Linked DNA regions of Homo sapiens. Each later gene encodes a partner of the first gene's protein in a complex. Links are inferred from orthologs where the notes say so. Each region holds a gene or a part of one and is shown in the gene's direction. Other genes may lie near its edges.

What was found.
Region 2: NME5 (region 1) and ROPN1L share a complex: the UniProt entries of both Homo sapiens proteins name them as parts of the axonemal radial spoke complex.
Region 3: NME5 (region 1) and LRRC23 share a complex: the UniProt entries of both Homo sapiens proteins name them as parts of the axonemal radial spoke complex.
Region 4: the proteins of NME5 (region 1) and DNAJB13 are in contact, whole or in part, in a cryo-EM structure (PDB 8WZB), measured with the Mus musculus proteins. The link is inferred for Homo sapiens from one-to-one orthologs. Residues at the interface, in NP_542368.2 of Mus musculus: Glu52, His53, Asn56, Met193, Lys199, Pro200, Lys201, Leu202, Cys203, His204, Phe205; in NP_705755.2 of Mus musculus: Thr156, Lys157, Lys158, Thr181, Ile182, Asp183, Arg185, Trp188, Arg189, Gly191, Thr192, Arg193, Ile194, Thr195, Phe196, Glu197, Pro281.

The regions. Positions count from the first base shown.
Region 1 is NC_000005.10:138,136,422-138,144,383, reverse strand, and holds the start of NME5 (nucleoside diphosphate kinase homolog 5), read left to right. Parts: upstream 1-4,955; 5' UTR 4,956-4,995; coding exon of another isoform or gene 4,996-5,013; exon of another isoform or gene 5,014-5,480; intron 5,481-5,598; 5' UTR 5,599-5,603; coding exon 5,604-5,732; intron 5,733-7,962. Other genes in the region: BRD8 (bromodomain-containing protein 8), read left to right, coding at 3,502-3,679, 4,218-4,310. UniProt on the Homo sapiens protein: Functions as part of axonemal radial spoke complexes that play an important part in the motility of sperm and cilia. Does not seem to have nucleoside diphosphate kinase (NDPK) activity.
Region 2 is NC_000005.10:10,436,869-10,444,887, forward strand, and holds the start of ROPN1L (ropporin-1-like protein), read left to right. Parts: upstream 1-5,010; 5' UTR 5,011-5,299; coding exon 5,300-5,430; intron 5,431-8,019. UniProt on the Homo sapiens protein: Functions as part of axonemal radial spoke complexes that play an important part in the motility of sperm and cilia. Important for male fertility.
Region 3 is NC_000012.12:6,900,890-6,907,826, forward strand, and holds the start of LRRC23 (leucine-rich repeat-containing protein 23), read left to right. Parts: upstream 1-3,932; 5' UTR 3,933-4,186; intron 4,187-4,695; 5' UTR 4,696-4,744; coding exon 4,745-4,870; intron 4,871-4,955; coding exon 4,956-5,065; intron 5,066-5,519; coding exon 5,520-5,773; intron 5,774-6,425; coding exon 6,426-6,556; intron 6,557-6,937. UniProt on the Homo sapiens protein: Essential for sperm motility and male fertility. Plays an important role in the proper assembly of the third radial spoke (RS3) head and the bridge structure between RS2 and RS3 in the sperm flagella.
Region 4 is NC_000011.10:73,954,017-73,961,035, forward strand, and holds part of DNAJB13 (dnaJ homolog subfamily B member 13), read left to right. Parts: intron 1-1,896; exon of another isoform or gene 1,897-2,016; coding exon of another isoform or gene 2,017-2,186; intron 2,187-3,552; exon of another isoform or gene 3,553-3,838; intron 3,839-4,300; coding exon 4,301-4,404; exon of another isoform or gene 4,405-4,408; intron 4,409-4,520; exon of another isoform or gene 4,521-4,713; intron 4,714-4,878; exon of another isoform or gene 4,879-5,009; intron 5,010-5,477; coding exon 5,478-5,639; intron 5,640-7,019. UniProt on the Homo sapiens protein: Functions as part of axonemal radial spoke complexes that play an important part in the motility of sperm and cilia.

The DNA.
Region 1 (7,962 bases):
GGTGTTACAGTTCTTAAAGATGGTGTGTCCAGAGTTTGTTCCTTCGGATGTTCAGATGTGTCCGGAGTTTCTTCCTCCCGGTGGGTTTGTGGTCTCGCTGAGTTCAGGAGTGAAGCTGCAGACCTTCACAGCGAGTGTTACAGCTCTTAAAGGTGGCGCCTCTGGAGTTGTTCGTTCCTCCCAGTGGGTTGGTGGTCTCGCTGGCTTCAGGAGTGAAGCTGCAGACCTTGGCGGTGAGTGTTACAGCTCTTAAAGGTGGTACATCCGGAGTTGTTTATTCCTCTTGTTGGGTTCGTGGTCTTGCTGGCTTCAGGAGCGAAGCGGCTGACCTTCACGGTGAGTGTTACAGTTCATAAAGGTAGTGCGGACCCAAAGAGTGAGGAGCAGCAAGATTTATTGCGGAGTGAAAGAACAAAGCCTCCACAGTGTGGAAGGGGACTCCAGCGGGTTGCCACTGCTGCCTTGAGGGGCCAGCTTTTATTCCCTTATTTGGCCTCCTCCACATCCTGCTGATTTGTCCATTTTACATAGTACTGATTGGTCCATTTTACAGAGTGCTGATTGGTCCATTTTTATAGAGTGCTGATTGGTGCGTTTACAAACCTTTTTTGGTGCGTTTTTACAGAGTGCTGATTGGTGCATTTACAAAGCTTTAGCTAGACACAGAGCGCTGATTGGTGCATTTACAAATGTTTAGCTAGACACAGAGCGCTGATTGGTGCGTTTTTACAGAGTGCTGATTGGTGTGTTTACAAACCTTTAGCTAGATACAGAGCACTGATTGGTGTGTTTACAATCCTTTAGCTAGACAGAAAAGTTCTCCAAGTCCCACCCAACCCAGAAGCCCAGCCAGCTTCACCTCTCAGTATTTTGGGATTTTATTTTTATTTTTTATTTAAAAAAATTTTTTTGAGACAGGGTCTCACTCTGTTGCTGGAGTGCAGTGGTGCAATCATGGTTCACTGCAGCCTTGACCTCCTGGGCTCAAGCAATCTTCCCACTTCAGCCTCCGGAGTAGCTGGGACTACAGGCATGTGCCACTGCACTTAGCTAATTTTTAAATTTATTATTTTTTAAATTTTTACTTACTATTATTTTTTGAGACAGGTCTCACTCTGTTGCTCAGGCTGGAGTGCAGTGGCACATTTCTTGGATAACTGAGCCTCAACTGCCCAGGTTCAAGCAATCCTTCCACCTCAGCCTCCCTAATAACTGGGTCTAGAGGTGTGTGCCACCATGCCCGGCTAATTTTTGTATTTTTTATAGAGATAGAGTTTCACCATGGTGCCCAGGCTTGTCTCAGACTCCTGGGCTCATGCAGTTCACCCACCTCAGCCTCCCAAAGTGCTGGGATTACAGGTGTGAGCCACTGTGCCTGGCCTGATATTTTTATTATAATAAAATATTTTCTTTGTTTGAAATGTTATTAATAACTTTATTTTTCTTCAGAATATCACTGAGGAGGAATTTTTAAATTTTTTGTAGATATGGGGTCTCACTAGATTGCCCAGGTTGGTCTTAAGCTCGTAGTCTCAAGCAATCCTCCCACCTCAGCCTTCCAAAATGCTGGGATTACAGGCAGGTAATCCTAGCCTATTTTGGATTTTTTTTTTTTTTTTTTTTTGAGACAGTCTTGCTCTGTCACCAGGCTGGAGTGCAGTGATGAGATCTCGGCTCACTGCAACCTCCGCCTCCCGGGTTCAAGTGATTCTCCTGCCTCAGCCTCCTGAGTAGCTGGAACCACAGGCACACGTCACCACGCCCAGCTAATTTTTGTATTTTTAGTAGAGACAGGGTTTCACTATGTTGGCCAGGATGGTCTCAATCTCTTGACCTCGTGATCCGCCTGCCTCGGCCTCCCAAAGTGCTGGGATTACAGGCTTGAACCACTGTGCTCGGCCTATTTTGGGTTTTTATAGCATAGGTCATCTAAAATGCTGTCATAAACCTGTATGGTAATAGAATGTAAAAGATCATGATAGGACCTTTGGAGAGTCACTAGTCTGTGCTGCTATAGCACAATACCACAGGCTGGATAATTTATAAATAATAGAAATCTATGTTTCTTTGTTTTGGTTCTGGAGGCTGGGAAGTGCAAGATCAAGGCATTGGTAGTTTTGGTGTGTGAGGTGGGTTACTCTCTGCTTCTGCTTCTAAGATGATGCCTTGTTGTTGTATTCTGCAGAGGGGACGAATGCTGTATCCTCACATGGCAGAAGGGACAGAAGGATAAGAGGGCACTCTCTTCGATATGGAGCCCTTTTATAAGGATGCTAATCCCATTCATGAAGGCAGAGCACTCATGAATTAATTACCTCCCAAAGGCTCCACCTCTTAATACTGTTGCACTTGGGATTAAGTTTCAACATGAATTTTGGAGGGGATACCATCATTCAAACAGCAGAGACAATGATACCATCATTCAAACAGCAGAGACAAACTTCTTTAGGAATGAGGAAACTAAAGCTCAGAGGTGCTTGGTCATGACTTGCTCGTGATCAACCAACAGTTAATAGCAGAGCTAGAACTAAGCCCCAGATTCTTACCTGCAGTTCAGTCTTCTTTCTACACTGCTGTGCCTTCTCTTATATATCTACTTTCTGTGTCTCATTAATATTGTCTTAATATTCACTTGATCCTTTTTTCATCTCCATGAAAGGAGAAAAAAATTATTCTTAGCTTTTTATTTGTGCAGTAAGAGAAGTAGATGAAATAATATATGACTATACATTGTAAACAGCAAATAACTACTGTGTGATAAACTGATGATTGGTGCTCTTTACAACTTTGATACCTGGGGCCAGCACTCCTCCTCTGATAGTAGAATATAGTGGCTTGACCTGTGGGCTCTGGAGTCAGGCTGCCTCTGAATTGGAATTCAGGCTGTGTGCCTTTCAGTGAGTACTTAACCTCTTTAGATTTCAATTTCTTCATCTGTGAAATGGAGATAATAAGGCCGGGGGCGGTGGCTCACACTTGTAATCCCAGTACTTTGGGAGGCCAAGGAAGGTGGATCCCCTGAGGCTAGGAGTTCGAGACTAGCCTGACCAACATGGTGAAACCCTATCTCTACTAAAAATACAAAAATTAGCTGGGCATGATGGCGCACGCCTGTAATCCCAGCTATTCTGGAGGCTGAGACAGGGGAATTGCTTGAACCTGGAAGGTGGAAGTTGCAGTGAGCTGAGATTGCTCCATTGCACTCCGGCCTGGGCAACAAGAGTGAAACTCCGACTCAAAAAAAAAAAAAATGAGATATTAATGATACCTACCTTACAGGTTTATTGAGAGGATTAAGTGAGTTAGTATAGAAATACAGTGTTTGGCCCATTGTAAACAGGCAAATATTAACTGCTGTTGCTATTTTATTATCTGATGAGGGTTGTTATCTTTGCTACTGTTTTCATTAAGAACTGGTTAGTTCTTCAAGAGAACGTGTTAGGTTATCATATGTTCCACATGAAGGTTTGATTTTCTTTGTTTTTTCTTGGCCACCTGCAGACCCATGGACTTAACTAGCCTGAAGAGAAATCTCTCTAAGGGTCGGATTCGCACCATGGCCCAATTCCTGCGAGACCTGATGCTGATGTTCCAAAATGCTGTAATGTACAATGACTCTGATCATCATGTATACCATATGGCTGTGGAGATGCGGCAAGAAGTCCTGGAGCAGATTCAGGTACTGTATGCAGATACCTGTAGCCTCTGGAATCTTGATTTCAGAACGCCTATGAGAATAAAGGTGATTTCGAGGTGACTGTGTTCTCAGAGTTTATTTTTAAAGGTGATTAAGGCCCTGAAGGATTGATAATGTGCCTGCTGGTTTGGAAAACCCTGAGCCTCAGTAAGTCCAGCTCTGATAGTGAAGTAGTCTAGGAATGCAGGCAGCAGTGAAGAGCTCTCAAGAGAGCTGAGGATAGACAAGTAATGGGAATTCCCGCTTCCAGAGCCTCAAGTCAAGGGCTAAACTCCAAAGAGGCTGGAGTCACTGTGTATTTTTTGGTTGCTTCATCTGTTGTTATTAATGTACGTTCACACTTTCCCATCTTTAGGGGATAAGATATAGTAGCTAGAAGACATTTGTGGGTTTCTTTTCTGGGTAGCATCATACTTTAAAGAAAAAAGTATAGTTGAGTCTATTTGCCAAAAAAATAAACTTGCAATACTTTAGTGTTTAAGGTTCATAATAGCTTGCTATGTGTTCCTTAACCCTTTAGGTACTGAATATCTGGTTAGACAAAAGAAAAGGCTCAAGTAGTCTGGAAGGAGAACCAGCTAACCCAGTGGATGATGGAAAACCTGTTTTCTAACCTGGAGCTGCTATCCTGACTTTTTCTAGAGTTTGAATCTCTCCCGGAACTCTGACCTAGAGAGGATCCTGGTACTTCTTTGCCATGTCCTCATTTTCTTTTCCAACAAGAATAATACCTTAACTCACAACCAACGAGTCAAAGATGCATGTGGACATAATATAAAGAAAAAAAGGGGAAGCTGAGGTTTGGATTTATGCCATAAATGTTGCCCACATCTTTGTTCCATCGGCTTGATTTAAAGACAATTCCATTAGATCTTTTCTAAGCCTTTTACTCTATAAATAAATGTATTTACACAATAGGAATATTGCTTTTTAATGACTAGATAAGCTGGGCATAGAGGGCACAGCATCATCTGGTGAAACGAAGGTATCTGACACGGGTCATTTACATATACCGCCTGGAAAGGAATGGTTGGGGGAGGGGTTCTTATCATTTATAGAGTAGGGATAATTGAAGCATCCTTCAAACGGGAAGAAGGATGAAATAAGATAAATTATGAGTAAAATGTCAGAAAACATCTAGTGCTCTAAGATTCACAAGGAGAATAAAAGTGACTGGCTGGCTCCCTTTGGTTAAAACGAACTGGCCAGAAGCTGCAAGGTTCCTTGCTGGGATTGGCTCTCTGCAGCCACCGTCCCCACGCTGGGGCTTCAGGTCTCCTAGCAACAAGTTGTACCATATGAGGACGGCCGCTGAGGTGAGTACTTAGAGAGGGTCAAATTCAGAATTTGCAGGTGCAACCCGGAAAGTCCCCGCGGACCTAGAGGCCCTGCTTTTCAATTAGCCTGACCCTATGCACAGAGAGGTCCCTGCGGGACAGGGTCGCTTCACAGAGGCAGCTGGCCGAGGCCGCTCACCCGCCGCTGTAATGGTGTGTGGTTGCCCACCAGCCACCGTCCCCTCGAGCCCCCACCACCCGCTCTACCGCCCCCTCGAGCCCCCACCACCCGCCCCACCGCCCTCTGCTGCCTGGGGCTGTTGCTGGTTCCAGGCCTTCGGGTCGCCCCTTGGCCTCTGGTTATGTGAGCCCATAGTCCTTCCTGCCTTGGTGACATCGTATACGAAAAGCCGGGGCTCGATTTGGACATAGTAGGAATCCTATTATTGAGACCCTGTATATAGAAAAACATGGCAGTTTCTACCTTCATCAGTTAATAAAATCAAGTACCTACTATTGCTATTCTTAATCATAATTACATTGAATTTGCGATGGGGGTGGGGGGAAATGCATGTCATTGCAGTTGATACCTGTTAAGAAACTCTTAATTTGTGCCCTGAAAAGCCATAATGGAGATATCAATGCCTCCACCTCAGATATATGTAGAAAAAACTCTGGCCATTATCAAACCAGATATTGTTGACAAAGAGGAGGAGATACAAGATATTATTCTTAGATCCGGATTCACCATTGTTCAGGTAACTTCTGGGTATGATGATTCATGCTTTTTTCCTCTCTGCCCTTAAAAAAAAAATGCTTATGTAAATGTGCCTACCCATTTAAACCCTTAGTGTTCAGCATTAAATTTAAGTTTATTCTTCTAAGTATAAAAGTTATATGTGATAGTTTTTAAAAGGATGTAAAATGAGAAATAAAATGGACTTTTCCTTCACCTGTCCTCTTTTACCCCAAGTCCCAGGCTCCAGAGAGAGGCAACCACTTAACACTTTCTGTTCTTCCAGGAGTTTTCTATGCATTTATAAACATTTTCCCCCCATAAAACAGAACAGTCCCTTTCCCTTGACCCCTTTACAGAGTCCCTCAGATAGGATTCCAGATCATTGCATCTGAATTGATCTCACTCTTCCTAATTTCTGTGTAATATTTCCCTGTGTATTAGAACTACAATTTATTTACTTGATCTTCTATTGATGGAATTTTAGGCTATTGGTACTTTTTTCAGTTATGGCATAACATTTAATGTTTTAAGCCTTATGTTCTGCAATTAGTAAACATTGTCATTCTAGGGGTTTGAAAGTGAATATAAATAGCATTGTTAAGGATAAATCAAATAGAATTGAATATTTTTAATCTTCCTCTTTTATAGTTTTTTTTTCTTTTTTTTGAGACAGAGTCTCCCTCTGTAGCCCAGACTGGAGTGCAGTGGTACGATCTCGGCTCACTGCAACCTCTGCCTTCCAGGTCCCGGTTCAAGCAATTCTCCTGCCTCAGCCTCCTGAGTAGCTGGGATTACAGGCATGCACCACCATGTCCAGCTAATGTTTGTATTTTTAGTAGAGACGGGGTTTTACCATGTTGGCCAGGGTGGTCTTGAACTCCTGACCTCGTGATCCACCCGCCTCGGCCTCCCAAAGTGCTGGGATTACAGGTGTGAGCCACTGCACCCCGCCTCTTTTACAGTATTCTCATTCGAACTTCCAATTTTTTATTTTCTCCCATTTATACAGTGTCATATTGCTTATTCAGTCAGTATTTTTAAAAATAAAGAGAAAATGGCGGGTACGGTGGCTCACGCCTGTAATCCCAGCACTTTGGGAGGCCGAGATGGGTGGATCATAAGGTCAGGAGTTTGAGACCAGCCTGGCCAATGTGGTGAAACCCCATCTCTATGAAAAATACAAAAATTAGCTGGGCGTGGTGGCGTGCACCTGTAGTCCCAGCTACTTGGGAAGCTGAGGCAGGAGAATCGCTTGAACTCAGGAGGCAGAGGTTGCAGTAAGCCAAGACTACGCCATTGTACTCCAGCCTGGGCAATAGAGGGAGATCTGTCTCAAAAAATAAATAAATAAATAAAGAGAAAATATCAATCTTCAGAAAAGATACGGAATTTCAGTTGAGCTTCAAAGGACAGGTGGAGTCCGAGAGTAGGGATGGCACAAGAAAGTGTTAGGAAGTATTTAATATGATTAAAGACTCAGGTAAATAACTTTTTAGTAAATGTTAGGAAAACTGGTAGCCACTGAAAAATTTGGATCAAGTATTATATACCAGGATAAACTCCAAATAAACCTGAGATCTACATATTAAAAAAATTAAACCATGTAAGTTCAGGAAGAAAAGATAATGGATTTATTTTGTTGTTGGAGTAGGACAGCCTTTTTTTTTTTTGTTATGACTTAAGGTCTAGGAGCCATGGAAGAAAAGATTGATAAGATTATATCAACAAGGCCAGGCACGGTGGCTCATGCCTGTAATCCCAAAACTTTGGGAGGCCAAGGTGAGTTGATCACCTGAGGTCAGGAGTTTGAGACCAGCCTGACCAACATGGAGAAACCCCATCTCTACTAAAAAATACAAAATTAGCCAGGCGTGGGGGCGCATGCCTGTAATCCCAGCTACTCAGCAGGCTGAGGCAGGAGAATCGCTTGAACATGGGAGGCGGAGGTTGCCGTGAGCCGAGATCGTGCCATTGTGCTCCAGCCTGGGCAACAAGAGCGAAACTCTCGAAAAAAAAAATTTTTTTAATTTAAAAAAAGATTATATAAACAAAAAATTTCTGCACAATGAAATAAACACCATAAGCAAAGTCAAAACACAACAAACTTGGGAAAAAGATTTGCAACTCATAGACAAAGGGCTTGTCTTCTTAATACATAAAGAGCTCCTAGAAAAAGATAAAAATAAATTAGTAGAAAAATGGGCAGAACAGATGGATGGTCACAGAAAAGGAAAAACATTTTTTAAATA
Region 2 (8,019 bases), about 130 Mb from region 1:
AAGTAATTTTTATTTCAACATTTAATGTAACTGCTATTATTGTGGATTCTTGTCTTGTGTATTTTCTTTCCCTTATTCAAGTAATATAGAATAACTTTCCTTAAAATGATTTGATCCAAGATACGTCATTTCTGTATTGGCAAAATGCCACTATTAAAGTGTAATTCTTGAATTTAGGTTGAATTGATGACTTTTTAAAACAAAACAAACACTGGACAGTTCTACATTGTATTGCGTTTGCGAATGTGCGTGAACACACGCACACGTGCAGGAGAATGTAGTGCCATAAGAACACTGGCGCTTTTTAAAACTTTCCAAGCTAGCTACTTATTTTCATTTTCAGGGTTGAGTACTCTAAGCTCTCTACTTACTGTGAGAAGTTTTCTACATTGTAAAATTAAAAGATTATATTTAAAATACTTCTTTAGGATGTTATTCAGCCATCAAAAAAAAACCCAACTAAAATGTCTTACCAGTAAAGTATTATTAAAAGCCTCATTTGTGGAGATTCGCTGACTTCCTTGGTTAAGCTGTCTTGTATTTACTTAATTTGTCCCCTCAACCAGGTGTTTTCTTTTCAGCCTGTTACTGTCCTGTGCCATTTTTAAAAATAGCCATCATGAGTAAGGGCTTCTTTAAAATAATCCCTGACAATATCTTTGGCATTAATACGACATAAAGACAAGACAGTATATGTATGTTTTCATTCCTGTTTTGTACGAGTGCCTCATTTTGTAGTCATGAAAGTAACATAGTACCTTAAATAAAAATGTAATGACTAATCTAAGGTCTAGGAATAACTATTGTAGAAGCTAAGTAGAACACTTAGTTTGGGGTGTCAATTTTCTATCAACGCAAACACCTTAGGGTACCCAGACCAATTTTATGTATATATATTCTGAAATGCTCCCTTTTTAATGTGGTCATTTGTTGCCTTCTAAGTTGAGAGGACAAAACTGAATAAAGTGAATGTTAATTGTAGTCTAGTTTTTTTGTTTGTTTTTGTGTTATTGCAAGATTGCTTTAAGATTGCAGAAATATGCATTATTAGCCAGCATAGATAATCCAGATGTTATAATAGGAAGGAAAAACAACTCCAGTTAAATGTGACTGTGGCGACTCCCTTTTATGTATACATTTAAATGCATAGTTGCAGAGGACACATCCCTCCCCTTCTGTCTCCCTAACTTGAACTGTAGACCGTCCTCACTGGGAAGAGTAAGGCCCCACATTTTGTGCAATAGCAAGCTACTGCCCACTTCTGCATGTCTGCTACGAGATCAGAAAGTCAGTTTCACTAAGGTTGTCTTTTAGCTGAATACTTAGAGTAAAACCAATCAAATCCATTGTACATACCTGACCATATGTCCCAGATAAAAAGGAAAGACTTGCGTGATGTTTTTTTCCTTCTGAGTGCCCTGAGGAGATCCTTTTGCTTCAGACTATTTCTAATTTTTCTTTGTTTATAGGTTCAGAATTTTTTCCATGATTGTTTTCCCCCAAACAAGTGCATTTTTAATTACTTTAAATGCAGGGGTGATAGAGGAAATGCTATTCGAACCATAGACATCTTTAATCTGTGAAGCTGAAATTTTTCAGCAAAGGAAATTGCATGGTCAAGTTCAGAAACTGGCCATTAATTTCCCCCTTCCGCTCCACAGTTCATAGCTACTCTTGTTGCAAACATGTAGTGATAAGGAGAACTAACGTATCAAGGGGCTGAGAGGGTAACGTTCCCCTCCTCCTCCATGTTTTTATTTTGGTGTCTGTTTTGTTTCTAGCACTGTATTTAGTACTGTAGTTGAATGAGGTATGATGTCTCCCTTCAAGGAACTCAGAATGGAACAGAAGCATGAGCAAAAGATTGTATTACAGAGGTATGAATAAAATGCCATGGGGAACACAGAGAAAGGTTCACCCGGGAGAGATGGCCTAGCCACTTCCTTAGTGACTGTTTGGTATATGTAGGTCCCCCTGCCATTACTCTTTCAGCCTTCTGCAATCTAGTTCTACTTAGTCACACACTTCTCTAAGACCACTCATACGTAAACACTACGTAGAGGCCCCTTTTTGCCTCATTTTACATTGTTTAGTTATCATTTTGAAACTTTTCTTCACATATGTAACAGTGCCGGAGTTTTTCTGCTTCTCTGTGTTTGTTCAGTAACTCTTCTTTAGGATACACCTAAAGATGAGAAGCTTCATACCCAGTACTCCTCTTCATTCACTCATATGTTTTTGGGATCAGTCCCTTCTGCTGGCTGTGCATTGGTCTAATGGAACAGAATAGAGTCCAGAAATAACCCAACATGTATGTGGACAACTGGTTTTTGACAGAGGTGCAAAGGTCTTGAAAAAATGATGCTGGAATAATTGGGCATCAGATGCAAAATTAAAAACAAATTGATCCATATCTTAACACTGGCAAAGATTAAAGTCCAAATGGATTATAGTTCCCCAAAACTGTATAATTTCTAGAAGACAACAAGGAAAACGTGTTCAGCCTTGGGTTAGGAAAAGATTTCTTAAATCCAACACCAAAAGCACAATCCATGAAGGAAAAATCGATAAATTGTACTTTATCAAAATTGAGAACTTCTCTTTGAAAGGTACCATAAGGAGAACAAAAAGACAAGCTGTAGAGTGGCAGAAAAATATTTGCAAAACATTTCTGATAAATGAGTTGCATCTAGATTACATAAAGAAGTCTCAAAACTGAACAAGTAAACCCATTGTTTACTTAATCGCTGTTTCTCCTGAGCTTGCTGCCTCTGCCCCTGCTCTCTCTCCTTTTCCATTTGTTTTCAACATTGAATCCAGAATGTTCTTCTTGAGATCCAAGTCAGATCACACCAACCCTCAGAACTCTCCAATAGACGACCATGGCACTCAAAAGTCCACAATAGCCTTCAATGCTGGGCAAAACATGAAGCACCCCTTTTCTCCCTTCTCTGACCCCATCACCTCTGTGTTCACCCTGCTCCTGCCGTCCTCCCTGCCTCCAAAACAGGTCAGGCCTTCGTGCCTTTGCACTTACTATTTGCAATACCCAAATGTTCTTCAGGCTCTTTAGCCTCTTCATTTCTTTCCTGAAGTGTCATTCTCACTGAGGCTTATCTAAAGCTGCAGCTACTGGGGCATTCCTGTCTCATCTCCCTGCTGTATTTTGTACTCCCGGCTCTCTTTTGTACTTTTAAACATACTATATGGTTTACCTTTGTTGTTTATATTTGCATGTTGTTTCCCACTTGAATGTAAGCTCCAAAGATTTTATTTTTTTAAACTGAATTATTACTGTATTCCCAGAACAATTCCCTGGCAAATATTTGGTACTCAATAGTAATGCTAAGTTAGTAAATAAATGATGAATTTAGAATCAAAATAATGTGTCTATGGCCAAAATAAAACCTGAAATCCCTGTCCTATTTCCCAGAGGTAACTGCTGTTAATAGTTTAGTTGTGTGCTTCCAGACATACCTTCACAGAATCATTTATCACAATAAAGGTGTCATACTATGCAGATTGTTTGACAAGATGCTTTTTTTCACTTTACACGGGCATCTTTTCATACCATTGTGTGGCCAGGCCATGATTTGTTTTCCAAAAGACATTTACCCAATTTATATGGTGAAGATTTTTGTCCATATTACTTTTTATAGTATTTCTGTAGGGTAAGTTCCCAGAAGTAATATTGCACGATCATCGAAAAATTTTAGTGTTACATTACTGCCCCATAAAGGTACTAATTAACATCCCTCTCAACAACATAGAAGATTCCTTTTTTTTTTTTTCTTTTTTTGGGTGGAGGGGGGCGGGGACAGAGTCTTACTCTGTCGCCCAGGCTGGAGTGCAGTGGTGCCATTTCTGCTCACGGCAACCTCCACCTCCCGGGCTCAAGCTATTCTCCTGCCTCAGCCTCCCAAGTAGCTGGGAATACAGGCACGCGCCACTACGCCCAGCCAATTTTTGTAGAGAAGGGGGTTTCACCATGTTAGCCAGGCTAGTCTCGAACTCCTGACCTTGTGATCAGTGCTGGGGTTACAGGCGTGACCCACCGCGCCCGGACGGATTTCTTGTTTTCATACTGTCATCAACTTTAAATACAAGTATTTTCAGTTTTTGCCAATGCTGTTAATTTAGAAATGTGTATGTATATATTGTCTGGTGGGTGTTTGGATGGAAACGATCAAAATCGGGCAACTTCCCCAGTTTCCTTGAAGGGAGTGCTTGCCATCGGCCCCTCTGGGAAGTAGCTCTCCGTAGTTCTCCATCTTCCTGTTTTGAGGAACGCAGGAGGAGGTGGATCTGGAGTCTCATCCATTCGGTGGCTGTTAACGGCAACTGCAGCAGCCAGCCAGGTCACCCCCTAAAGCAAAGTTAACCCCTTGCATGGTGCCTTGGTCAGCACCCACCAAATTCGAGGTTTCTCCTATCCTTCGACTCGAGGCTCTTTTGACAGATGTGATTTATTTCCTCCTAGAGCCAGTCACATTGGCTCAAGCAACCTATCGTAAGAAAACAAATACAATAGTGTTTTAGCTGGAAACTGCCCACTGTCTAAGCGGCTTTTTAAATTAAGAACTCAGGTTCACTACGGGATGGCTTAGGCCAGGGAACAGCATGTGCGAAGTTCGAAGCCCGAGAAGTTTGGAGGAGCGGCCCCAGGCGCAGGCGGGTCCCGCAGCGGGGCCCGTGCCGCCCAGGCGATCAGCCCCTTCACTTAACCCGCTTCCCTCCTAGCAGGCCCGAGTCCCCTAGCCTCAGCCTCACGCAGCCAGAGCAAGGGGAAGAGGGAGTCCTTCGTGAGTTCGCCGCTCACATTCGGCGGTGGGAAACCGATCCGAAGATGCTTTTGTAGGCGAAACGCTCAGCTCGCGCGGCTCTGAACCACCGGGGAGCAGCGGCTGCTGCTAGTCGGACTACGCCAGCACCTCCTTGTCCAGCCCGGGAGCAGCCCCGCCTCGCTCAGGGCCGCGTGCGCGTGCGCGGCTCCAGGGGCGGGGCCTGCTCGCGTCCCGGGTGCCTGGATACCGAGCGCGTCCGTAGTGGCGGCTGGCGCTAGGGAACTGCAGGGTCTAGGGTGTTGTCGGAGTGGCAGTTGGTCCGAATTTCTCCCGAAGCCCGCGGAGGAGCGGGTAAGAGCCCCGCGAATCCGGCCCCAACCTCGGGAACGGGATGGGAGGCGGCCCTGGCCGCAAGCCCCGCGCTGCTAGCGGGTCCACCGCGTCGTAGCCGACAGCCGCCCTTCTTCCTCGCAGCGCGCCGCGATTCACCAGCCTGGTCCCTTCTGCGGAGAGCGATGCCGCTTCCCGACACCATGTTCTGCGCTCAGCAGATCCACATTCCCCCGGAGCTGCCGGACATCCTGAAGCAATTCACCAAGGCTGCCATCCGCACCCAGCCGGCCGACGTGCTGCGGTGGTCCGCGGGGTAAGCGCCCTTGGCCCGGGGAGCTGTCCGGTCTACATGCCCAAGCCAGACGAGCCCAGAGAGCCCTCCTCCCGGACCAGGGGCCTTACGCGGCACTCAGCGTCCTTAAGAGTATCAGGCAAAACTTTCCCCTTAGCATTGGTGACATCTATACTTGAGTGTTTTATCTAGGAACCATTTCGATTTATCGACTATGAGACCCGAAATCATTGCAAAATGCTCACTTACCTACAACGTAATGGCAACTCAATTGTTTAAAAGTGTTTATGATGAAGATAGACTAAAACTTAACAAAGTAATTGCATTGGGCAAAAAAGTGTTTACATTATGTTAAAAAAATTACACGGTTGCAGTCACTTTGTGAAATGACTTTACAAAGAGGAATATTTTAGCTAAGTTCCTCATCTGCAGAGAGTCCTCTCAGAGCTATGTATACCCAGAGCTGGTTAAATTTATTAGAACCGGAACGACCGTGGTCATACTGAGGTCATCATCCCTAGAGTGCTCAGGGTAAACTGTCCAGCAAATGAAGCTTCACAGTTTATTTTTTGCCACAAACATTCCAACACTTGCCAGGAACAGACATTCATAATCTCAAAGTTACAAGTCAACAGATCTTAGAGGCATTAAAAGAAATCCTCTTGGTTTTACAGGAGAGCTCTTTGCCCCTTTTCAATAAACAGATGTAAAACAAAAACTCACTTTTATGATGACAAGAGTCAGCACAGGTGTAAATTTAATTTAAATATTTTAGTCATCAACATTTCAAATTTTGGCTGGGCTTGGTGGTTCATGCCTGTAATCCCAGCACTTTGGGAGGCCAAGCTGGGAGGATCACTTGAGCCCAAGAGTTTGAGACCAGCCTGGGTAACACAGCAAGACCCCATCTGTATTTTTTTTAATAAGAAAACTAATTTAAAAAGAAAAAAAACAGCCAAATTTTGCTGGCTTTAAACTCTATAACCAAAGTGAATTAGTTTCGTTTGGCTGCTGTAACAAATCACCACAAAACTTGACAGCTTAAAACACAGACATACATTTGGGCCGGGCGCGGTGGCTCACGCCTGTAATCCCAGCACTTTGGGAGGCCGAGGCGGGTGGATCATGAGGTCAGGAGATCGAGACCATCCTGGCTAACAAGGTGAAACCCCGTCTCTACTAAAAATACAAAAAATTAGCCGGGCGCGGTGGCGGGCGCCTGTAGTCCCAGCTACTCGGGAGGCTGAGGCAGGAGAATGGCGTGAACCCGGGAAGCGGAGCTTGCAGTGAGCCGAGATTGCGCCACTGCAGTCCGCAGTCCGGCCCGGGCGACAGAGCGAGACTCCGTCTCAAAAAAAAAAAAAACACAGACATACATTCTTGCAGTTCTGGAGGCCAGAAGTCCAAATTAGTTTCACTAGGCTAAAATCAAGGTGTTGACAGGGCTTTGCTCTTTCCAGTGGTTCTCAGGAAAACCCAGCTCGTTTCCTTGCCTTTTCTGGCTTCTAGAGCTGCATTTCTTGGACGCCTTGGCTCATGTCCCCTTCCTCCATTTTCAAGGCCAGCATCTTCAAATCTCCCTCTGCCTCCTTCTTCCAAGGACACTGGTGATTGCATTCAGTGGCCATCCAGATAGTCCAGGGCAGTTTTCCCACCCGAGATCCTTATCAGTCCACAAAATCCCTGTTACCATGTAAAGTAACATTCCCAGGTTCCTGGAACATGGACCTGGATACCTTTGGGGCTGTTATTTTACCCACCAACTGAGCTACTTGTCCATCCAGTGCTTGCCTTCTGAGAAATGCTTTTATCAATGGTTTCTGAAAGACTCTTTCAAAGTTCTTGCTAAAGAAATATAGCCTCTGGTTTTAACCATTATTCAAGCTTAAATAAAAGGATTTATAAGAGTTTGTGCTGTACAAAAAATTCCAAGATTTAGCAACATCTTCTTGGAACATTAAACTATATTTAGTAATACCTTAGAGATAGTTATGTTAAGCTTCACTTTGTTTATTTATTTATTTATTTTTGAGACGGAGTTTCACTCTTGTTGCCCAGGCTGGAGTGCAATGGCGAGATCTCGGCTCACGGCAACCTCTGCCTCCCGGGTTCAAGCGATTCTCCTGCCTCAGCCTCCCAAGTAACTGGGATTACAGGCACTTGCCACCACACCCGGCTAATTTTTGTATTTTTAGTAGAGATGGGGTTTCACCATGTTGGCCAGGCTAGTCTCGAACTCCTGACCTCAGGTGATCTATCCACTTGGGCCTCCCAAAGTGCTGGGATTACCAGTGTAAGCCACCGCACCTGGCCTAAACTTCACTTTAAGAGGCTTAATCAGGCTGGGCATGGTGGCTCACACCTGTAATCCCAGAGTTTGGGAGGCCAAGGCTGATGAATCACCTGAGGTCAGGAGTTCGAGACCAACCTGACCAACATGGTGAAACCCCATCTCTACTAAAAATACAAAAATTAGCTTGGTGTGGTGGCACGCATCTGTAGTCCCAGTTACATGGGAGGCTGAGGCAGGAGAATTGTTTGAAACCGGGAAGCAGAGGTTGCAGTGAGCCAAGATCGTGCCACTGCACTCCAGCCTGGATGATAGAGCAA
Region 3 (6,937 bases), on another chromosome or scaffold:
TTCCCATTGGTTCACCCTATGCAAATGAAGTAGTGGCCGACTGCCAGTCTAATTGTGGGAGGGGACCAATCAAAATGAAGAGAGTAGGCCTGCTATCAGTCTGACTGGTTGTGAGAGGGGACCAATCAGACGTACTTTCATTTTTCAAATGCCATACAGAGAAAGGAGGGTTTGAAAAGGGAGTACTCTCTGATATTCAGTCAGCATGATTCGGCCTTAGATTCCCTGCCTCCGGACCCTATTCTCCTGCCTCTCAGCCTGGACAATGTAGTGAGACTCTGTCTCTAGAAAAACACAAGAAAGTTCCGGGCGCGGTGGCTCACGCCTGTAATCCCAGCACTTTGGGAGGCCGAGGAGGGCAGATCACGAGGTCAGGAGATCGAGACGATCCTGGCTAACACAGTGAAACCCCGTCTCTACTAAAAATACAAAAAATTAGCCAGGTGTGGTGGTGGGCGCCTGTAGTCCCAGCTACTCTGGAGGCTGAGGCAGGAGAATGGCGTGAACCCGGGAGGTAGAGCTTGCAGTGAGCCGAGATCACGCCACTGCACTCCAGCCTGGGAGAGAGAGCCAGACTCCATCTCAAAAAAAAAAAAAACAACACCAAAAAAAAAAAAAAAAAAAGGAAAAACGCAAGAAAGAAAGGAAAGTGGTAGTATATCCACATAATGGAAGACTAGACAACTATGAGAAAAAGAGGTAGATTTATGCTTAGTGACATGAAAGAAGCCCAAGACATATTAGAATTGAATAATTAGAAGAAAAAAACCCTAAACTAATCTAAAAATCTTTTTTTCTTTTTTTTTGAGACCGAGTCTCACTCTGTTGCCCAGGCTGGAGTGCAGTGGTGCGATGTCAGCACACTGCAATCTCCGCCTCCCAGGTTCAAGCGATTCTCCTGCCTCCGCCTCCGGAGTAGCTGGGATAACAAACGCCCGCCACCACGCCCGGCGAATTTTTGTATTTTCAGTAGAGACAGGGTTTCGCCATGTTGGCCAGGCTGGTGTTAAACTCCTGACCTCAGGTGATCCGCCCACCTTGGCCTCCCAGAGTGCTGAGATGATAGGTGTGAGCCAAAGCGCCTGGCTTTTTTTTTTTTTTAGACAGAGTCTCGATCTGTTGCCCAGGCTGGAGTGCAGTAGCGTGATCTCGGCTCACTGCAACCTCTGCCTCCCGGGTTCAAGTGATTCTCGTGTCTCAGCCTCCCAAGTAGCTGAAACTACAGGCACAAGCCACAACGCCTGGCTAATTTTTTTTCTTTTTTTGAGACGGAGTTTCACTCTTGTTGCCCAGGCTGGAGTGCAGTGGCGCGATCTCAGCTCACTGCAACCTAGGCCTCCTGTATTAAAGCGATTCTGCTGTCTCAGCCTCCCGAGTAGCTGGGATTACAGGTGCGAGCCACCACCCCAGCTAATTTTTTGTATGTAGAGACGGGGTTTCACCATATTGGCCAGACTGGTCTCAAACTCCTGACCTCAGGTGATCCACCCGCCTAGGCCTCCCAAAATGCTGGGATTACAGGCGTGAGCCACCACGCCCAGCCTAAATATTACTTTTATAATTGAAAGAGACTCTATCTAGACCAGCCGATGGGGGAAAAATATCAAGGATGTTGTGGAGTATCTAGCTCTCATTACACAGTGTAACTTCAGTCCTTGCCAACTAAACACGAAATAAAACCTTCAATAGCTCCCCACAGCTTTCAGGATAAAGTCCAGATCCTTCAGTGTGATCCAAGTCTGTTTACTGCTTCTACCATATTCCAACCCCCGACTGCACCTACTGTTCCAGCCAGCAGAACCACCTGCTTTCTTTGCACAGGCATTGAGCTCTTTCTTCTCCAAGCATTACCACAGGTGATTCCTGCCTCTGAAATCTCTGCCCCGAATATATGATATCATGTATATGCATATACTATACAATGATCCCTAGCACTTAGTAAAAGCTCTATAAATGTTGGGTATGATTATTATAACATGTCTCATTATATTGAATTACTTGTGTACTTAATCTTGTCACTGAACTGTACACCTCTTGAAGATAAAAGATAAGGACTTCTGTGCTTTACTGTCCCGGAGCACAGGGACAGATTAAGTGCTTAACAAAAGCATGGCAGGGCGCAGTGGCTCATGCCTATAATCCCAGCACTTTGGAAGGCCGAGGCGGGCGGATTGCTTGAGCCCAGGAGTTTGAGACTAGCCTGGGCAACATAGCAAAACCTTGTCTCTACAAAAAATACAAAAAAATTAACTTGGCATGGTGGCGCACACCTGTAGTCCCAGGTACCCAGGAGGCTGAGACGGAAGGACTGCTTGAGCCCAGGAGGTGGACGTTGCAGTGAGCTATGATTGCTCCACCGCACTCCATCCTGGGCGACAGAGGGAAACTCTATTTCAAAACAAAAATAAAAACAAAATAACAAAAGTGTATGTTCAAGGACACCTTCCTAACCCTTACATCACAACTTTTCTTCCCATCTAATGTGTCTTCCTCTTTCTTCTTGGCCAAGGAAACTCATATCCATTTCTTTTGACTACATCAAACCACATGGATTTTTCCCTTCTCCACACTCCAACAATACAATAACTTTCATTTGTATAGCACATCTCACTCTTCAGAGTGTTCATATTTATTATTTCTTTTTCCTCACAGCAACCCCAGTACCAAGGACACAGGCCAGGGGTGGGGAGGAGCAGGAAAATGTTTACTAAGGGTCAACTAAGTGCAAGGCGATTTACCCACATTATCTCTTTTAATCCCTTAACAATCCTTACAGGTGGACGTTTTAATAATCCCCATTTCACGACTGTGGAAATTAGACCTCAGTAAGATTTCATAACCTGCTGAAGGACACACAGGTATTAAGTAGTAGAGATGGGTTTTGAAGCTGGTGTCTCTGACTTTAAAGTCCCTACTGGTTCCATGACACCAAGTAAACAGATTTGCCTATTAACCACATTCCTCCAAGCTGCCCTGGGCAGGAGGTAATATAATACTTCCTGATTTCTTGCCCACCACATCTTCCACCAGACCACTTTGCCGTTATATAAAGTCTGTGGGCACAATTTAACAATGAATCACATGCCATCTTACCTGGTTACCTCATTGTTTCATTTACATTAGATTCCACAACAAGATTGGTAACATCCCCCTTTCCCCAGGCAGGAATTGTGTCATCTTAACCTCCCTGAGCCTCAGTATCCTCTTCTTTCAAATGTCTATCTTACAGGACTGTTGCAGAGATTAAATATCAGTTGTAAAGATGTTTGACATAATGTCTCGCACAAACTCTCCAGAAATATTTATTGCATCTCAACATCTTTTTCATCTCCTTCAACATGTCAGACAGGCCTGAGTGCCTGGGTTTGGCTATGCCAGTTCCTGTTGATTACTGATATAACAACGTTGGATCAGGAGTATTTTAGTGGGCAGATGTTGAATTTTCTGCCTTCCACCCACTAAAAGGTTTGCATCAAACCAGTCCAGGATAACTCATACTGGATCCCTGTCAGTTGATATAGTTAAGCTAATTCTACAGATAACAAAGAGTCTTGGGTACGTTTAGCTAGCAAATGCAGATCTGCCAAGACTCCAACCCAGTTCTTAAGGTATCTGGGTCTGGACTCCTTCCGCTCCACCAAGCCACCTTCCAAAGGTCTACCTGAAAATAACTAATGAGCAGAAACTATAGGGGGAAGGGGAAAAGACCCCTTATCTTGGTGTTTCTTGCTTTTCCTCGCAGCCCCGCCCTTTTTGCTTCGAAGGACGAGTTTTTCCTGAATTCACAATACTTTTGCATTGAAGATGTCCGGTCCCTTTAAGGTCTTGGGTGACGTAATGACTAGCCCCGCCCCCTCTCTTCTCGCTTCTCAGCCCTGCCCACTTCTTTTTGTCCTCAGCCAATTAGCGGCCCAACGCCCCTTCCGCGCCTCATCCGGGTTCCCGGGACGGGAAAGTGGCGTGGTAACCAGGCAACTACTGATCAATCCCCTCCCCGGCTGATTTGCGCATCAGGTAGTCGCCGCTCTACTCTCAACGGTGGCGAGCTGCAGTTGCCAAGTGCCCCGTCCCCGTTGCCATAACAGCAGTACACAACCCCTCCTTCCCCTCGCCCGCTTGCTAAACAGTCCTTCCCTCTCGGGACCAAGGGCCTCTCCAGAACTGCTTCTGATTGAGCAGAAACAGGGTCTGAGCCCCTTTGCTAAGGCGAATTGAGTGGGAGGGTTGGAGACTGCGCTTTAGGCTGGTGTACCAGAGGGCCCAAGGAAATTGGCCCAGTGGGGAGGGAAAAGTAGAAGAAATGAATGGAGCAGGGATTACGGATGGCGCAATGGGAGCTGAGAGGAGAGGAGGAGGAATTGGTAGGGAAGATTGGAGAGCATGGCTTAAGGGGGAGGTGGGAAGAATGGGGGAGAGGGAAGCCCAGGAAATAGGGACACCCGGCTGCTGGAGGAGAGCTGGAGTCACTGTGAAGGACAGGAAAGGCCTGGGGGTGTGGGTGACATCCTGAAGGGAGGGGGTCCTCAGTGGAAAGTGTGAAGTGGGAGTTGAGAATCAAAATGAGATGTTCACAGGGATAAGGAAAGAAGCCTAGAGTTGGTGGGTCAGAAGTCATGGGGGTGATGGGAGTGGCACGTGTCAATGACGATGAAGGAGCTGAAGGCTGGCAGAAGCTGATGAGACCTTCTTTTTCAGGAGGAGGACTGAGCTTATCTGACTCCAGAGCTTTCAGGAGGGAAGAAAGATGTCAGATGAAGATGATCTAGAAGACTCTGAGCCAGACCAGGATGATTCTGAGAAAGAAGAGGACGAGAAGGAGACAGAGGAGGGGGAGGACTACAGAAAAGAGGGGGAAGAGTTCCCTGAGGAAGTGAGAGCCTGGACAAGGAGGGGTCCTAGGGCTGAAGGAGGGGGTTGGGCAGGGGAGAGACACCTTACTCCACTTCTACCTGCAGTGGCTGCCCACCCCCCTCACGGAGGACATGATGAAGGAAGGGCTTTCTCTGCTCTGTAAGACAGGCAATGGGCTGGCTCATGCTTATGTCAAGCTGGAGGTTAAAGAGAGGTGCGTTTTGGGGGGACCAGATGAGGACTGTGAGACTGTAGGGCCCCTATCTCCTTTCCCACTGTCATTCCTGGGTGTTCTGGTTGAGAGTTTGACTCTTCTCATGCCTAGTGGAAAGGGAAGGACAGAATTTACTTTTCAGGAGCTCTGAGACTTCTCCTATCAAAGCTGACCTGGGGAATTGGAGATTGAGAGTATATGGGGGGATTCCTGCTGGATTCCCTTATTTGTCTTTCAGAGTATGGGTTCTCTGTCCTTCACAGACACAGGTCTCTCTGCCCACTGTTAAGAACCCACCTACCTTCTCTTACCCTTCTTCTCCCCTACCATCTGTTGCCCATTCTTCTCCCCATTATAAGCCATCTCCATATTGCCTTCTGCTTTAGCAACTCTGCCAGTCCTCACTGGGTGCTTAACCCTAAACCTGGTTTCTTCTCCCTCTTCCATCTCCTAGGGACCTGACAGACATCTACTTGCTGCGCTCCTACATCCATCTGCGCTATGTGGATATTTCTGAGAACCACCTGACAGACCTGTCTCCACTCAACTACCTCACCCACCTGCTCTGGCTCAAGGCTGATGGCAATCGGCTGCGAAGTGCCCAGATGAATGAACTGCCCTACCTGCAGATTGCTAGTTTTGCTTATAACCAGATTACTGACACTGAAGGCATCTCTCATCCTCGTCTTGAAACCCTGAATCTCAAAGGTGGGTCTTTAGGATGGGCTACACAAGATTCTTTCCTTCCTAGCCTGAGGCCAACAGAAGTGGGCAGTATGGTCCTTGGCTAGGGCACATGGCAGTCTGCATTCATTCATTCATTCAGATACGCAATATGATTCATTATGACAGTTCTACATGCTAACCATATAGGATCCAATAAGACAAGGAACGTCCCTATTCTCATATAGCTTATATTCTAATTGGGAGAGACAAACAAGTAACAACAAACACAGTAAGTACATTCATGTAGCATGTTAAAAGGAGACAAGTGCCTTGGAAAAAATAGATCAGAGTAAGAGGAATGGGGGACACAGGTGGCAATGTCAAATAGATTGGTTAGGACAACCATCACTGAGAAGATGACATTTGAGCAAAGAATTGAAGAAGGAGAGGGAATTAGACATGTCAGCTGCTTCATTCACTCTTCAAAGGCTTAGGTGGATATGTCCATCAGGACCTTGGACTACCTACCACACCACTTGCCTCAGGGCTCCAGAGGTATTAAGTCTGGAGCTGGCCTTCCTCAGTATCTACCCTGCTTTGCGAATGGTAGGATGATTTAGAGGCTCCCCAAATTCAGGCTCTAATGCTGAGCATTTGGAGTGGCCCTTTGAGCTCTTGAAACCCTCCTCCCCAGGGAACAGCATCCACATGGTGACAGGTCTGGACCCCGAGAAGTTGATCAGCCTGCACACAGTGGAGCTTCGGGGGAACCAGCTGGAAAGCACCCTGGGAATCAATCTTCCTAAGCTGAAGAACCTCTACCTGGTAGCTCACTGGGTCAGAGGGTGGTGCAGGGAAGAGGGCACTGTCCTGGGGGTCAGGATGCCTGCTTTCTAGTAGGCTCAGCTACTAACTTCATCATTATGATAATAACTGGTATTATTATCAAGACCATAGTTGGTTCCAGATGCTGTGGAGATACACAGCCACCTAGCAGGGCTGATAATATATAATGTGTGGATAATACAGAGATAATTTACCTTGATACAGGTAGTAGCAAAATGGACCATAATTGAGGTACAAACATCAGTCTGTGGAAATGTTTTAGGAAAACCCTCCTCTCAGACTGGGTTTTTCTTCAGCTCTTACACTACCACCACAACAATCATCAACATACGACTTCCGGGACCAAAGGTGTGGGGGTTT
Region 4 (7,019 bases), on another chromosome or scaffold:
ATAATAATAATAATAATAATAATAATGGCTGGACACAGTGGCTCACACCTGTAATCCTAGCACTTTGGGAGGCTGAGGCAGGTGGACCACTTGAGGTCAGGAGTTTGAGACCAGCCTGGCCAACTTGGTGAAACCACTTCTCTATTAAAAATACAAAAAATTAGCCAGGTGTAGTGGCGCATGCCTGTAATCCCAGCTACTGGGGAGGCTGAGACAGGAGAATTGCTTGAACCCAGGAGGCAGAGGTTGCAGTGAGCCGAGATCGTGCCATTGCACTCCAGCCTGGGTGACAGAGTGAGACTTCGTCTCAAAAAAATAAATAAAAAAAAGTAGGCCGGGCGCAGTGGCTCACACCTGTAATCCCAGCACTTTGGGAGGCTGAGGCGGGCGGATCACGAGTTCAGGAGATCAAGACCATCCTGGATAACATGGTGAAACCCCGTCTCTACTAAAAATACAAAAAAATAGCCGGGCGTGGTAGCAGGTGCCTGTAGTCCCAGCTACTCGGGAGGGTGAGGCAGGAGAATGGCGTGAACCTGGGAGGCGGAATTTGCAGTGAGCCGAGATCGCGCCACTGCACTCCAGCCTGGGCAACAGAGTGAGACTCCGTCTCAAAAAAAAAAAATAAAATAAATAAATAAATAAATAAATAAATAAGGCTGGGCACGGTGGCTCATGCCTGTAATCCCAGCACTTTGGGAGGACGAGGCAGGAGGATCTCCTGAGGTCGGAAGTTCAAGACCAGCCTGGCCAACAAGGTAAAACCCTGTCTCTACTAAAAAAAATTAGCCAGGCGTGGTGACGGGTACCTGTAATCCCAGCTACGCGGGAGGCTGAGGCAGAAGAATCGTTTGAACCTGGGAGGTGGAGGTTGCAGTGAACCAAGATTGAGTCATTGTACTCCAGCCTGAGCAACAAGAGCAAAACTCCATTTCAAAAATAAATAATAAATAAAAATAAATAGAGTGATTAAAAGAACTATGTAGGTTTCAAAAAGCAGTCCTTAACCCTTCTCCCCTGCAATAACTCTAAGTCACATGTATGACATGCTTGCTCATGGGATCACCTAGATATTGATCAAAAAAAAAAAGAGCTAAACTTATATAAGGAAGAAAAACATCATGATAGTTTATAATTGCCCAGGATTCATAATTGCAGCGTTCAAGCTGTGATTTCACCCCTTTCTCTCCCACTCAGGAAAGCAGGTGAATGAGAGTGATGTTATTGCAGGGATAATTTTGAAACCACTCAAATTTATATGAAAAACTAAACCTTTCTCAAACCTTGTTACTTTTTTTTTTTTTTTTTTTGAAACGGAGTCTCTCTCTGCCACCCAGGCTGGAGTGCAGTGGCAGGATCTCTGCTCACTGCAACCTCCACCTTCTAGGTTCAAGTGATTCTTCTGCCTCAGCCCCCTGAGTAGCTGGGACTACAGGTGTGTGCCACTGTGCCCGGCTAATTTTTTTATTTTTAGTAGAGACGGGGTTTCACCATGTTGGCCAGCCTGGTCTCGAACTCCTGATCTCAAGTGATCTGCCTGCCTCGGCCTCCCAAATTGCTGGGATTACAGGAGACTGAGATGGGCAGATCACTTGAGGCCAGGAGTTTGAGACCAGCATGGCCAACACGGCAAAAACCCGTCTCTACTAAAAATACAAAAATTAGCCAGGTGTGGTGGTGGGCACCTGTAGTTCCAGCTACTTGAACCTGGGAGGCGGACAATGCAGTGAGCCCAGATCGCGCCACTGCACTCCAGCCTAGGTGACAGAGTGAGACTCTATCTCTAAATAAATAAATAAAAATAACTGACTGTGACCTTTATAATTGAGAAAGGCTGGTTTGGAAGGCTGTGACAATTGTCTTCAAGTCTCTGAAGGTAGATATTCTCTCTGTAAGGTCCCCAGGGCACAGCCAGGACCCTTATGGATGGAGGGGCAGTTGCAGGACCACAGATCCAGCTTCCTGTCCGCAGTAAGAGGAGGCATTGCCTAAAAGTCAGAGCCATGCCACAGTGAGATGGACTGTCCTGCAGGATGCTTAGCATGTATCATTTATTTACTCACTCCTGCTCAGTGCCCAGCACTGGGGCTAGAACTGGATGCAGCAACTCCAGGACCTCCCAGTCTATTAGACAGAGGAGTCAATATACACCTGGAACACAGCACTGCTGAGGACAAGGATCAAAGGTGCTGGGGACTTGGGAAGGGGAGTCTAACCTAGAAAGGAGGCTAACAATCAGGGAAGGTGCCCTGGAGGATTTGGCACCTGAGTCGAAAGTTGAAGGATGAATTAAAAATTGCCCAGAGAAGCTGGGAGGAGCTGCAGAGGGGTGAGTCATGCAGGAGAGGTCAAGGGAGCAGCAAGAGAGAACAGTGAGTGAGGCCAGAGGGAGAAGCAGGGGCTTGGATCTTAGAATGAGACATCCGAGTTTTATGCTGGAGACAATGGGGAAACCAGTGAAGGGTTATGCCAGGAGAGGGACCTGGTCAGAAAGTATTTCAGAAGGCTGGGCGCTGTGGCTCATGCCTGTAATCCTAGCATTTTGGGAGGCTGTGGTGGGCGGATCACCTGAGGTCAGTAGTTCAAGACCAGCCTGGCCAACATGGTGAAACCCTGCCTCTACTAAAAATACAAAAATTAGCCAGGCGTGGTGGCTCGCGCCTGTAATCCCAGCTACTTGGGAGGCTGAGGCAGGAGAATCGCTTGAACCCAGGAAGCAGAGGTTGTAGTGAGTAGAGATTGTGCCATTGCACTCCAGCTTGGGCAACAAGAGAGAAACTCCATCTCAAAAAAAAAAAAAAAAAAAAGTATATGTCTGGGCTCAGTGAATTTATGATACCTTGGAGAGGAGATGGCAAGTAGGCACTTGGAGGTAGTCTTTGGCTCAGGGAAGTGGTCTGGTTCGGGATGGAGATTTAGCTGTGAGAGACAGAAGCCTGCCTCTGGAATAAGAAGAGAAGCTGTGGAACTCTGGGGATGGCGGCGAGGCGGGTGTGGGCACTAGAAAAGCGGGTGGAGGCAAGGTGGGGGGTCACGCCTGGGCTGAATGACAGGCGTCTGTGCTGGATGCTTCCCGTGCAGCCCTCCAGACCCACTCCCCACCCTTCCTGCCCTGCTGCGCTCCGGGAGGCTTCCTTGCCCTCAGCCTTCCACATGGAGCCGGCCCAGGGGAGCATCAGGCGGGGAGATGGGGAGGGAGAAGGGCAGGGCTGCGGCTTTATTCCCCAGTTCTCCTCCTATGGGGTCTCTTCAGTCAGCTGTGTCGCTTGACAGAAGGTCACAGCTCCGCTGAGGGCCCTGTCCACACACTCCAACAGACCCCTCGGGGTTCCTGGCCTGGGAAAACTGCACTCCGCTGTCCCTGGCAGTCTCCCTCCGCTCCTCCAGCACCTGGGCGAATGGTCCCTTTATTAAGCTCTCCACAAACCACCCAATCCGCTCCATCTCTCCCCCACCCCGGGTCACTGCCGATACATATTCTCAGACGCTGCGATGTCTGCCCTTCAGAAACAGGCCAGCTGGTACGACTTGTATCAACCCTCCCTCCTCCAGGTGCCGCAGACTCGCCCTTTAACCACCCGTTGAAGTCAAATGAGCCGTCTTCAGCAGAGATTTTCAGGCAAATAGCAGAGGACTGGGCAGGAACAGAAGTGGGGAAAAAATGAGCAGAGAGAGGGTGGGGGCGGCACAGGAACCGGACGGGCACTGAGCGCCTCAGCCATGCCCGCTGCACACCCAATTGTAGCTCATCCTCCCAAGATGCCTGTGTGTCTGCTCCGGTCCTCTAAGAAGCAAACAGGATTAGATGAGCAGGAAATGCACCTGGAGAAACCGTGAAGTATGAAGGGAAGGGAGCAGGGGCGCGCACAGTACAGCCTGACACCTGCGAGTGGAGACAGGGAGGGGAGGAAGGAGGGAGAGTGCAGCGAGGCCCGGGGAGCAGCTCAGCCAGCCTCTGGGGAGCCCTCGCGCAAAGCTTGCCCGTTGGAGGAGTCCTGTGTCTTGCAGGAATGGGCCAGCCCTGGTATCCCCACCACACGTAAGCATTGAGGGCAGCTCAGGGGCAGTTGCTTCAGCTCAGATGCCCAGGGGGGCAGCTGCTGGAACTGTCGGTCAACTGTGCTCCCCGCACCAGCTACTCTTCAAGAGCTGAGCAGTGCACCTCCGCAGCCACCACAGCTGGTGAAGTCACCCCGGATTTATAGCTAGGCAGGAGTGAACAGAGTGCCGGCTCTGAACTCTGGTCCGCCCTCAGAAACAGACCAGCTGATAAGACTTGTATTAATTCTCCCTCTTCCAGGTACCGCAGACTCGCCCTTAAGCACCACCCGTTGAAGTCAAATGAGCCGTCTTCAGCAGAGATTTTCAGGCAAATAGCAGAGGCCTACGACGTGCTGAGTGACCGTGAGTAGGTGTGGGGCTGAGCACCCCGCTTGATTAGGATCATTCCTTAAGTCTCTAGACTGTTGGGTTTTCTGAGGGGGCCCAATAACGAGGAAGCATCCTTCTTCCCTGCCTAGAATCTAGACACACAGAGAAGACAGAATACGGACCCGCCTTTCTCAGTAGAAGCAAGCTGAGGTGGAGGACGTGGGGTGTGGAGCCCAGGATTACACTGACTCGCTCATCCTGGCAGGCAGTGTGGGAGCTGGGGCACATTCCCCACGCATCCCTATGCCCTGCGGGGACGGGACCTTCCCCGGGAGAAACAGAGTAAGGGGCTTGCAGCTACGGGGAAGAAAGCTGAAGCTGGGCAGGCGTGCCCACCTGTCCCTCCCAGAGGTCCTTCCCAGTGGCTTAGTGTCCATTTCCCCAGGGCCAGCAACAGTAGGAAGAGGCAGAGAAAGGCCAGGAGTAATTAGGAAATCTGTCTCCTAGGGAAACCAGCAGAGTGAAGAAAGTGTGATCCCCGCCCCGGCACCCAGGGCCGTCCTGCGGGGCTTTCCCTGGGGGATTGTCCTGGAGACTAATCCTGGTTCCTGCGGAAGTGCAGCTAGAAGATCACTAAGGTTTCTACAGCCCCGAGTTTTCAGGACTTCAGGGTCCTTAGACTCTAGGATTTCGAAGTTTTAAAATTTGGAGGCTCTAGAATTCTTAGCTTCTAAAATGTCAAGGTTCTACGATTCCGTTTACCCCAGATAAGACAGTGGCTATGATGACTGAGTTAGGCCAAATCCCAGGGCCATTGCCTGAGCCTCAGTCTCTCAGTTATTCCCCCAGTCTCTCACCCTGCCCCCAGCAAACTCAAGGCTTTCCCGTCTCTCTTCTGGGCTACAGGAGCCATACCTAGGTCCTCCCAGAATGAAATGGAACGCCTGACTCCTAGGGTCTCATTCCAAAGACTGCCAGACAGCAGGCACTTTGGGATCAGGCTGCTTCTGCCCCTTCCCTTTCTCCATATCCGCCTGCTTCCCAGCCCCTCCACCTATCTCAGCCCCCAAAGTTGGACACCTCCTTAAGGTGATGCCCATCCACAGCCATGAAGAGAGGCATCTACGACAAGTTTGGAGAAGAGGGCCTGAAGGGTGGGATTCCTTTGGAGTTTGGATCCCAGACCCCATGGACAACTGGTTACGTCTTCCATGGCAAACCTGAAAAGGTGTTCCACGAGTTCTTTGGTGGAAACAACCCCTTCAGTGGTAAGAGGTCTTCCTCCCCCACCTTGCCTTATAGAGAAAGGACACTGCTATAAGTGATGTTTTCGTTGAGTAGTTTTGTTTTTATTTTTACTTTATTATTTTATTTTATTTACTTATTTTTTTTGGAGATGGAGACTCACTCTGTTTCCCAGGCTGGAGTGCAGTAGTGGGATCATGGCTTACTGCAACCTCTGCCTCCCGGGTTCAAATGATTCTCCTCCCTCAGCCTCCCAAGTAGCTGGGACTACAGGCGCACGCTGCCACACCCAGTTAATTTTTTTATATTTTTAGTAGAGACGAGGTTTCACCATGTTGCCCAGGCTGGTTTCGAACTCCTGAGCTCAGGCAATCTGCCTAAGGCCTTGGCCTCCCAAAGTGCTAGGATTACAGGCATGAGCCACCGTGCCCGGCCTATTTTTACTTTAATAAATATATATAAAACACATTGCAAAAGAAAAAGTAAAACAGAATTCATTGAAAAAGAAATACATTCCAGCCCTCCATTTTCTTTTTCTTTCTTTCTTTTTTATTTTTATTTTTTAGATGGAGTCCTGTTCTGTCACCCAGGCTGGAGTGCAGTGGCATGATCTCTGCTCACTGCAACCTCCGCCTCCGGGGTTCAAGCAGTTCTCCCTGCCTCAGCCTCCTGAGTAGCTGGGATTACAGGCACCCACCACCACACCCAGCTAATAATTTTATATTTTTTAGTAGAGACGTGGTTTCACCATGTCTGCCAGGCTGGTCTTGAACTCCTGACCTCAGCTGATCTGCCCACCTCTGCCTCCCAAAGTGCTGGGATTACAGGTGTGAGTCACCACGCCCAGCTAATTTTTGTATTTTTCATAGAGTAGAGACAGGGTTTCGCCATGTTGGCCAGGCTGGTCTTGAACTCCTGACCTCAGGTGATCTGCCCACCTCGGCCTCCCAAAGTGCTGGGATTACAGGCATGAGCCACCGTGTCTGGCCGAGCCCTCCATTTTCTTCCTCAGAAGCAGCTACTAGGGAAGCAGCTATTAGTAAACAGTTTATGTATCCTTCCAGAAACTTGCCATGCTTGTATGAGCTGTATTTATTTTTACAGAAGCCTTTTATTAAGGAAATAGGGCCAAATTTTACACAATGATTTTTTTTTTCACTTAATATATCTTGGAGATTATCTTATATGTTATACTATATATAGATCTACTTTATTCACTTACATGCAAATCTATATACTATGTACAGATCTGCATAAGATTTCATTGTACAGATGTCTATTAGGGATCCATTGCAGAAGCAAATACTGTTTTAGCCACGTGAAGCAGAAAGGGGTTCAAAACAGGGAATTAGGTGCTTTAAAAAATCACCGAGGCCAGGTGTGGTGGCTCACTCCTATAATCC